Regions from separate parts of the Homo sapiens genome. Here region 2 is linked to region 1. The links come from fine-mapping of genetic effects on gene expression. A gene starts in region 1. The other region holds a variant in brackets. All regions are shown on one strand. Distances are from middle to middle.

Region 1 (5,381 bases):
AAAAGTGTGAAGACCTTCTGAGACTGAGCACCCAAGAGTTTTAAACTGTCAAGTTTGTCTACACTGAGTCTCAACAATTCATGAATTATTACATGTTTGTATGTTGCTAAAAATACTGGCTTCATCTGTGGTCCTCTGAACCTGGGCTTTAGTTTCTAGAATTGAGAATAAATTGTGATTATCTGTCTTTAACTGTCTGTCTCTTTTCAGGACAGCACTTTGCTGTGACTTCAATTCTGTCATGGATCTGAGAAGATTTATTTTCAGTTTGTTTAGTTTTCTCATTGATGAGAAGATGGGAGGGATTATCCCAAACTTTACTTGTTGAAGTGAAAACCAGAAGTTATGCTAAATGTTAAAGTAGATAATAAGCAAAAAAAAAAAAAAAAAAAAAATTAGCTTGGATATAGAACCCTTCTTCAGAGAAGATCAGGAAAGGAAGAACATTTATTTCTTTCTCTGCAAAAATATAAGTTTTGTTGTTAGCAAGGAAACAGTCAATTATCAAACTTTAGAATCTTGACATAAAAGTGAGTTAGCACATGTGAGAATCTGTAAACTAGACATAACTAACTCTAATGCTTTTCTTTAAAGACACAAACAACATGCTTTCTACGTGTATAAGTCACAGTGAAGAAGGAGCTTTTCTTTATGGTATCACTGTTGTTGCCCAGCCCATCTCTGTATCTCTTACTTGTATGGTGAGGAAGTACTCAGTGACAGCTCAGGTATTCCCCAATTCTGCTCTTCTTCCACATAAAAAACTTTGATGAAGTCAAATTTTGGTTTGAAGGTCTTGATGACCACCCTGTGGGAGGCTGTAGGGTATTCTCAAGCTCTCTGACATCTCACACTCCCAGCCTCAGGTGTTTCTTCCCTTGGACACCAGGATCCTTGACTCTGGTCTTACTCTCCCTTAGTCACAAGTCTCCTCATCTCATAGTTTCCCATGACGGTTCTTGCTGGACATCCTCAAGGATCTCTGTCAAACTGACAATAATTAGAGGCAATCTCAGAATTACACATGTGCCAATCTGGATTGCAACATTTTAATTCCAGGTGTCAGGTTTCCAACAATCAAGGAGAAAAATGACCATAATCCATTGACAATTCCTCTCCCACACTCAGTCAAAAATGGTCCAGATCACAGTCCTACATGCTGGAATTATTTCCTCTGCTTCTCTCTCACCCCACCTTGGCCAAAGATTTTCTAGCAAGATCTGAATTTTAATCCATCTCTCTTCGCCTGTGTGTCCCGACTAATTTGGCAGAAGGAATTCTTTCTTAAAACCTTGCCATTTAATTCACAAATGGAAATGTGAAGGGTCAATAGGTATGTGAAGAACCTATTCACCCGTATTCACTGGGAATCAGAGAAGTGAAAATGAAAAGAACACTGAGCTATCATCTTAGATACACAAAACTGTCAAACATTTGAAGGTGGCTAACACCAAATGTCAATCAGGATATGAGGAAAGTAGGAATTCTTCTATACAAGAGGACAGAAATCTGGCAGTGCCAAAAGAAAAAGTACATCTATGATCTGCCCCTCCGCAGATCCCATTCCTAATACATATATCCCAGCGAGTTCTGCTAATCTGCAGAGGATGTCTAGAAACGCATTCATCACATCAGTGTTTATAATAACCAGGAGTAGGAGGCAATCAAATGTCCTTCACAAGTGGAACTGGTAAGTTAAAGAGACTTAGGTTGGGTTTCTCTAAAACCAGGCCACAAGACAAAGATTTGTATTCCAGTGGCTTATTTTGATTTAGGAGATGATTTAAGGAATCACCAGTGCGGGAGTATAACAGTGAACCCAAGACACCTTGAGATCAATAAAAAGGTGCATTGTTGGCAGGCTGCCTGCAAAGAAAGGGAGCATAATCCCAGTAGACAACACCAGGAGGCAGTTTTGTACATGCCTAAGAGTAATCCCACCTTAGCATGTAGAACACAAGGATATTTAGTCTCCAGTTCCCATCATGTGGGCTGAGTGGTGGTCCCAGGTGCTTTAATTTGTAGTCCATCTGCCCAAGCACAGGCCAAAAGAAAGCCTTCCCACAGAGTCCCGAGTTCATGTGGCAGCATGCCAGAGGTATGTACTGGAACAGTAGGTGCTAAAGGCAACAATTACATCATGAAAACTGCACATCTCACTCATATGTGGAATCTAAAAGTAATTTAGCTCATAGAAGTTAAGAGTAGAATAGTTAGAGTAGTAGAAAGTTAAGAGTTGTTACTGGAGAGAAAAGAGGGTATGGAAGCTAGAAAAAAAGCTAGAAGGAAGGATTTTGAATGTTCTCATGACAAAGAGATGATAAATGTTTGAGGTGACAGACATGCTAATTACCATGATTTGATCTTTACACAATGTCTGCATGTATCAGAACATCACACACTACCAAATAAATATATACAATTGTTATGTGTCAAAAAACATTATATACAATGTTTATATTTTATATTAATATTAATGTAAATAAAAATTTACACAAATCTTTTCATTAAATATGGTGTGGATAATTATATTATCTGATGATACCCATGCCACAGGCTAGGAGAAATAAAAATTTACATTAATGTTAATGTCAAAAAAGCAGAAACAAAGCCATATGATACATGTGACACTTATACCACATGCATAGAGTTATTTCAGACACATTGTGTGTTACCTTTGGGTAGAGAAGTGAATGAGAGTGAGGATGAGAGATGAAAAGAGGCAGAAGAAAAAGAGAGGCCTTATAGGAAGTGATGAAAGTGTGCCATAAACTGAGAGTATGACTAAAACCTTTCATCTTCCTCTTCTGCCGCTTCTAAGTTATTGGTTCTGCTGTTCCTTGACCTGTTTCAAGCTCTCACCTTCTATATCACACATGGGAAGTCTGGCATCAGACTTCCAGAGAGCAAGAACTAGGTGAAATACAAGGGCACAGCTCTCCTAGCCTGTGGCATGGGTATCATCAGATAATATAATTATCCACACCATTTTTAACAAAAAGATTTGCGTAAGAGATTCACAGAGGCAACCTGAGGCCCTGCAACTACATTTCCCAGAGATCCCTGAGGTGATCCTAACTAGACTCTGGTGTCAGGGTGATACGGAATTCCAGTGAGATCACTTCCCTTGCAGACTTTGGAAGGGAGAGCACTTTATTACAGACCTTGGAAGCAAGAGGATTGCATTCAGCCTAGTTCCTGGTTGCTGGCCAAAGTAAGTAGAACTTTGTAAGTAATTTGCAGTGTACTTTGAAAGTGGGGTATAAATTAAAAATAAAATCAAGTCCCCCTACTGACTGAATGGATCCCCTCTTGTCCTAGGCGACCCCAGAGAAACCTGGAAAACTAAATTCCAGGCCATAATGGAAAGGGAGGTCAGACACGCCTCATTATACACACTCCCTTTTGGAGTTCAGGCACAACTGACCAGCATTAACATTGAAACAGTGATCATAAGACTGTCAAAATGGACTGTTTGTGGGAATAAGATACCAAATTCCAATCTGACTCTGGTTTAGCATCACATGACAATAGCAGACCCTGAAGGAAATCAATATATTTAATCCCCAAAATATATTTCTTTGACACATATTGAAATGGTCTTGCAAAACCATCTTTTATGGGGAAATTTGCTGGTTTCTGGCTCTGCTCTGATTGAGGAGAGAATAAATGAGAGTCTGACACCTTAAAAATCTGAAAAGAGATATTTACCATCTGTTTTCTCTAAGGCTGCTAGCTGGAGGTTTCATCTACATGACATAAACCATGGTTCCCATAAGCCCTTTTAACTCAAGCATTTAATTGTACTGACCGCAAGTCTTTAGACAAAACTTAACTCTTCAACAAATTGCCAATCACAAAATCTTTGAATCCACCTTTGTCCTGTAAGCTCTCCTACTTCAATATGTCTGATTTTCAGGCAGAGCCAATGTATACCTTATGTGGGGGCCATAGGCTGTTGGCCCCCTAAAGCTTCACTAAAAGTCACTGTCATGTGACAGGTTGATTAATAGGGGAAAGGGAGTACAAATTTATTTAATGTATATACATGGTCTATTAGCCAGGACCCTTTAGAGGGCCAGAACTAATAGGATAGATGTATACATAAAGGGGAGTTTATTAAGGAGTAGTGAGTCACATGATCACAAGGTGACGTCCCACAGTAGGCCGTCTGCAAGCTGAGGAGCAAGGAAGCCAGTCCGAGTCCCAAAACCTCAAAAGTAGGGAAGCCGACAGTGCAGCCTTCAGTCTGTGGTCAAAGGTCCAGGAGTCCAAAGGCTGAAGAACTTGGAGTTTGATGTTTGAGGGCAGGAAGCATCCAGCACAGGAGAAAGATGTAGGCTGGGAGACTAAGCCAGTCTAGTCTTTCCACATTCTTCTGCCTACTTTCATTCTGGCTGTGCTGGCAGCTGATTAGATGGTGCCCACCCGGATTGAGGGTGGGCCTCCCTTTCTCAGTCCACTGATTCAAATGTTAATTTCCTTTGGCAACACCCTCACAGACACACCCAGGAACAATACTTTGAATCCTTCAATCCAATCAAGTTGACACTCAATATTAACCACCACACTTGGGAAACTTGAGAATGAAGACCCAACTTCCCAGTAAGTTACAGAAACTCATGTATTATTCCGAGGCCACAGTAAAGAGTGGAGACTCAAAGCATGGCCAGAAACAGGTAAATTAGTTTTAGTGGCAACACAGGTTAAGAGAGAGAGGAAGGAAGAAGCTCGGCTAGCAAAGGTGGCCTTGTTATGTAGACGAACCTTTTCTCAGAAGCAAAAGATGGTAAATGTTTCTATCCAGATCTTTAAAGGTGTCAGACTCTCAATCGCTCTGGATCCTGGGAAAGGCTTAGAAACAGGAGAGGGTATGGCTGCATTAATGGACATTGTCCACAGACGCAAATTTTCCTCAGTTAAGACAGTTTTGCAATGCCACTTCTGCTTGTTGGCCAGTGGAAACCATTTTTAAATATGTCAAAGAAATATATTTGAGGGTAAAATATTTTGATTTTCTTCAGTCCCCACTTTGAAATTTAAAACAAGTTTCACATACTAAAAGCCAAGGTAATAGCTTTGGGGAGATTTAAGTTAGAGGTGTTTAGATAGAGACAGTCATAGCAGTGGAAAAACACATTTGGGATAAATATAAATGAGCAAATTTAAATATATCATTCCATATTTTCTTTAGGCAGTCCCTTGGTTTTGAGGTGAGATCAGTTCAGTTAAATATCTACGTCCCATTCCAGGAGGTGGGACTGCAAATGGTTTAGGCCTTTAGACGTAATGTAGGCAATCAGATTTCTAGTAGGAGGCATTTCTGTAGAAACAGAAAAAAATAAATAAATAAATGTTACTATCTGGAGTAGTCTATATAT
Region 2 (5,381 bases), 110 kb after region 1:
AGCCAGGAAGAAAAGAGCGAGCAGGAGACTGCTGAGCTATAAGCAGGGGGAAGCTGCATGGCTCCTTGGGGCTGGGGAAGTTTTCCTAGGGTAAAGGGATTTCCAGCCTAAAGGTAATAAAGCTTTTATCTCTCTTGTCTTGAGGTTTCATGCAAACAACAAATATTTGTTGAATGTCTACTGTTTTCATTGCACTCACCACTGCCCTTCCTCATGTCCTGTGCAGCGATTGGCAAGCAGTTTCTGCCTTCAAGACTCAGTCTAGTGAGGTGCTACCAGAAGTCTAGACAGGGAGCCAGGCTGGGGTAAGGCCCTACTGGTAGTGGCACCGCTGGAGGGGATGCAGAGAAAAGGCAGAGCCCTCTGATTACTTTCACTGACTCTCATGGTCTGAGGGCTGTTGGTAAAGTTCCTATTGAACAGAGAATGCAAAATCCTTTATCGTATGGTCATGCAAATTATTACTTCAATACAGAGCATTCAAACAAGTATCAACAAGGCAAAGCTTCCATGACCAATCACATGGAGGGACCTCCAGGTGTCTGGCTGCAGGGCCCCTTGGGGGAGAGGCAAGCATCCAACACGGACACTGATCCATCAATACAAGCCGGGATCACACCTCCTAGGGAAAGTGAAGGTGCTCTGAGCACATTGAGGAGCAGAAAAGCCTAGTCAGAAAAGACTTCCCATGAAACTGGCATTCAAACACATATCTGAAGGATGAGTTACTTGGGGAAGAGAGGGGATCCTTCAGGAAGGGCACAGAATGAGCAAGACTAAGAGGTGGAGAGGTTGTTAGGAGAATAGCAGGATCAAAAAGTATAGCCGTGAAGCTGGACAGAGAGTTGGGGGAGCCCGGTGGGCTCAGTCAAGAATATTTGGTCTTAGGCCAATCACACCTGTAATCCCAGCACTTTGGGAGGCTGAGACAGGAGGATCACTTGAGCCCAGGAGTTCGAGAGCAGACTGGACAATGTAGTAAGATGCTGTCTCTACAAAAAATAAAAAATTAGCCAGGCCTGATGGCAGGCACTTGTAGTCCCGGCTACTCAAGAGACTGAGACGATGATCACTTGAGCTCAGGAGTTCAGGGCTGCAGTGAGCTATGATAGCACCAATGCAATCCAGCCCAGGAACAGAGCAAGACCTTGTCTCAAAAGAAAAAAATAAAAATAAAAAAATGGTCTTTATTCCAAATGCAGTGGGAAGACTTAGAAGGGGAATCACCATCACGTCAGTTTGAACCATATGAAATTGACATTTTTGCTGGTCAAAAATGACCAACGCTGGCAGTTTTATATGGTTCAACCTAATACAGGTTTGAGCATCCCAAATCCAAAAATCTAAAATGTTCCAAAATACAAAACTTTTTCAGGGCGGACATGATGCTCAAAGGAAATGCACGTTGGAACATTTTGGATTTCAGATTTTCAGATCTGAGATGCTCAGCCAGTAAATACAATGACAATACTCCAAAATCTAAAAGTCCAAAGTCCAAAACACTTCTGGTCCCAAGCATTCTGTTCTATCCTCCATCTGTATTTCGAAAAGAGTCTTCAGCCCGACCCTTCCAAGGTTGACTATTTGTTGTTGGTCTTTTAATTCCAAGGTGATTTTCTCATTTCCTTTCACAGGCAAGTCAAGCCTTGGCACCAACAGAGCAGGGAGTGAGAAGTGTGGGGGCCGAGGCCAGATGGGCCCTGCATCCTACTTTCTGGAGCAGCAGCGACACTGTCATCTTGCTCACCTTTCTTCACAGCCTGCAGTGCCCCACGTGGAGGTGTGGGCTCACCAGGGAGGACTCTCACCTCGGACAGCTGATCCCTGTCCCCTGTGCCCAGGGACATTCTTCTTGCCAGGAGTTGATGAGTTCCCAGTGGAGGTGGAGGACTCCTAAGCTTTTCAAGGGATGGGCTCAAGTAATACAATGCCCCCACACACCCAGCCATCGGCGGCCCCTCATTCTCAGCTTTCAGTTGCTTCTGTGTATGCGAGACCAGAATCCAGGTCACAGCTCAACTGGACATCATGGCACTGACATTGTTCATTTTCATTTTGGCAGCACGCACAGAGCTGTTCAA[G/C]AGAAGGTCACAGTGAGATCATATAAACCAAATTTAGCCATCTGGGTACAAGGAGAGACTTAGGTGATTCGTGTCTGATAAGGAAAACCAGACTTTCACAAAGCATCCTTTAGTGGGAGCCTTTTAGAAACCCCAGAGATGACACCTGTCAAACTTCACAGCACACTTGGGCTTGAGGGGACCGGAGAGTGCACAGGCTCCCTGTGTAGATGAGACCCCGAGGAGATGGTGGTAGTTTTCTCATCTTAGACTAACTCCTACATCCCAGAGTCCCAGAGCACTTTATGTTCTCTGGTCACACGTTGAGGGAGGCAGTTTTAAACTAACTGGAGCAGAGGGGCTGGGGAAGGGCTTAGTTCACTTCCACTCATGGTCTGTGCTCACCTTGAAGTCACACCTGGCACTAAACCATTTTTGTAGAATAGGTGCCCCACTCTGCCACACGTTAATCCTGAAACTAAACAAGAGATTTGGTTGAGTATGGTGGCTCACACCTGCAATCCCAGCACTTTGGGAGGCCAAGGTGAGCAGTTCACCTGAGGTCAGGAGTTGAAGACCAGCCTGGCCAACATGGTGAAACCCCATCTCCACTAAAAATACAAAAATTGTCCAGGCATGGTGGCGGGTACCTGTAATCCCAGCTACTTGGGAGGCTGAGGCAGGAGAATTGCTTGAACCTGGGAGGCGGAGGATGCAGTGAGCCGACGTTGCACTACCACACTCCAGCCTGGGCTACAGAGCAAGACTCCATCTCAAAAACATATAAATAAACAAACAAGAGATTTGGCAGGGGTGGGGTGGAAATCAGGAAATCACACACCGGATAGCAAAATCTCACACAACTTTTCTTTCAATATCTCTCCTCATTTCCTGAAGACCCTTCCACCAAAATCTATCCCATTATTTCTTCCCCCTCTCCCACACAGTTCCTCAGATCACCTCCAACTGCCACCGCCCACTCAGCAAGGCAGAAGCCAGACATGTGGCCTCCTCATCTTCATTCTCCATCCTTGGAAGCCACTTAGTGAGGAATTGAGAGAGATGGGGTGGTATGGGATGGGGACAGGGGGAGTTTGATTTATCAAGTATTCACTCTCCAGTATTGGCCTCTTCTTAGAGGAGAGAATTTAAAATGTCCTATATTACTATTATTTCCCATATTATAATATTATTAGTAGTAGGCCAAAGAAAGCAGACTCAAGGAGACAAAAGGACAAAAATTTCAGTGTACAAACACAATCAAATAAGCATTAAGTGAGAACTGTTCACGGTCCAGGGTGACTTTGAAAATGGCCTCTTCAATGACAGAGGAAAATGAAGTTATCGGGAAAGCCATCACGTGTCACACACCGAGATTCTGTGACTGTTAAATTTTAATACGTTCGGTGCAAGGAAAATTGAAATTTCTGAAGAAAAGAAAAGCCAAAGGGCAAAGAGAAGAGAAATGAAACCAGCCTGGAAGTGGGGGAGTGGAAGCTGGGGGTGACACGAGGCCCTGGCACCATGACCTCTTTCTTGTAAGGGAGATAGACGTGCTCTCAATCACTGTGGGCGCAACCAGGGGGTCATGCCTTTGAAAAATGACAAAAACTACTGAAACTAAGGGGAAAACACAGAGCGAAGGCAGTTAACTCTCAGTTGTTCAAGGGCTGATGCTGAACTTGGGAATGATCTAGACTTTGCCTTTCTTTCTCCTCCTTTCCTGAATGTTGGCAAACTCACTGCTCACAACCACCTTATCCTGATGTTGAACAACCCTGCACCTAGCACATTAGTTAAATATTAGCATCTTTGATTAACGTTCTAGAGAGCCAGGGAAGAGTGTTTAAATTTTCAGTATAGCCATGAATTTTTGACAAATTTGAGAACTGACTCCATAGGAGTGAATGTGCTATTCCCAGGAACCCACACCTTGACAGCCGAAGATCGGCAACGCAGCTATTAAGTTCTGCCTTAAGGAATTCTCACCATCAGCGTGGAAGGAGATGTCCAGAAAAAAATGTGGGGGGATTAGGATCGTGCCAAGAATAAAAAGGAAAATACAGATAACATCTAACTACTTTTGTAGAGGCCCTTCCTCCAAATGTTGCACCACTTTCCCCAATACCCAAAGAAAAAGATTTTACTTGGGGAAAAAAGTCAGCAGCAGCACACACAAAAATGACCACACCACAAGGTGCAAGCATTAAAACCACGAAAAACGTTAATGTATATGATTGAGAACACAACTGAAATAATCAGTAACAAAATATTGATCACCTCGTCCGGGATCTGATAGGTAAATGGTTGAGTGAGTCGCGCCAGCCCTCAAAGAGTTTATAACTGTGTTGTAGGCTGTACAAAAAGACTAACACCCAGGAAGCAAAGAGTATTTAGGACAGAAGGTCATTGCCAACGAAATTGTTTCATGCCAATTGTAAGTTGCTGTAGTCCAGGGGCAGGGGTGGTTGATGGGGTTTTCTAGGCAATAAAGGGCTCAGCTTTGATTGGTGAAAAGAACAAAGGCCGGTCAAGAAAAGAGGGGAAGGAAATTTAAAGTAGAACAGCCGAATAGAACATCAGATGGGGGCTAGATACAGCTCCTCTACTTCTAGACAAGAAGTAATTACCAAGTAAAGAGAAAGCAGATGCTTGCCCGTGGACATACAGAAATTAAACACCCTGCCAGGTGCAGTGGCTCACACCTGTAATCCCAGCACTTTGGGAGGCCAAGGTCGGAGGATCACTTGAGTCCAGGAGATTGAGACCAGTCTGGGCAATGCAGTGAGACCCCTCAAAATTTTTTTCTCAAAAAAAGATTTAATTAGCTGAGTGCAGTGGTGCTGGGACCCCTGTAGTCCCAGCTACTCTGAAGACTGAGGTGGGAAGATTTCCTGAGCCTGGGAGGTCAAGGCACTGTGGGCTGTGATTGCACCACTGCACTCCAGCCTGGGTGACAGATCAAGAGCCTGTCTCAAAAAACAAAAGACAATGAAGAAAATAAATTAAACAACCAGCTAAGTCTCACTCTCCAGAACAATCTTTTTGGAAACTGAGGATGGAGGTGGAAAAGAAAGACCTTTTGTGGCTCTATTTTAGCCTACCCAAGAAAAACAATCTCAGCACTTCAAGTTTCTATTGAAAAGAAGATCGCTGAGTTTGGTTATCCATCCTCAGAAGGAGAGGATGGGACATCATAGTTTTGAGCAATGGTCGCCTCATTGGAAAAACAATTACTGCCATGAAGATCTGCACAACAGGAACTTATGATAATAGCACCTACTACATGGAGTGATTGAGAGGACTGCATGGAGTCATTTC

Alleles and levels. Positions count from the first base shown, and alleles are read on the strand shown. Sizes are in standard deviations (SD) of each study's normalised expression.
As copies of G replace C in region 2, the expression in cerebellar hemisphere of the gene that starts at base 3,151 in region 1 goes down (moderate effect, 0.58 SD a copy in GTEx).

The links. PIP is the estimated chance that this variant, and not a neighbour inherited with it, causes the effect.
Region 2: its variant is the best candidate, but not a certain one, in a credible set for the expression of NAT2 in cerebellar hemisphere (GTEx, PIP 0.80).

Annotation. Positions count from the first base shown.
Region 1 is chr8:18,388,132-18,393,512 of GRCh38, forward strand. It overlaps NAT2 (N-acetyltransferase 2), which reads left to right and starts at 3,151. Exons shown (of 2, transcript NM_000015.3): 1 at 3,151-3,214.
Region 2 is chr8:18,496,928-18,502,308 of GRCh38, forward strand. No RefSeq gene overlaps it. Among named protein-coding and RNA genes, the nearest start is that of NAT2, 110 kb to the left of the region's middle. The variant G/C (reference allele first, on the strand shown) is at 2,082.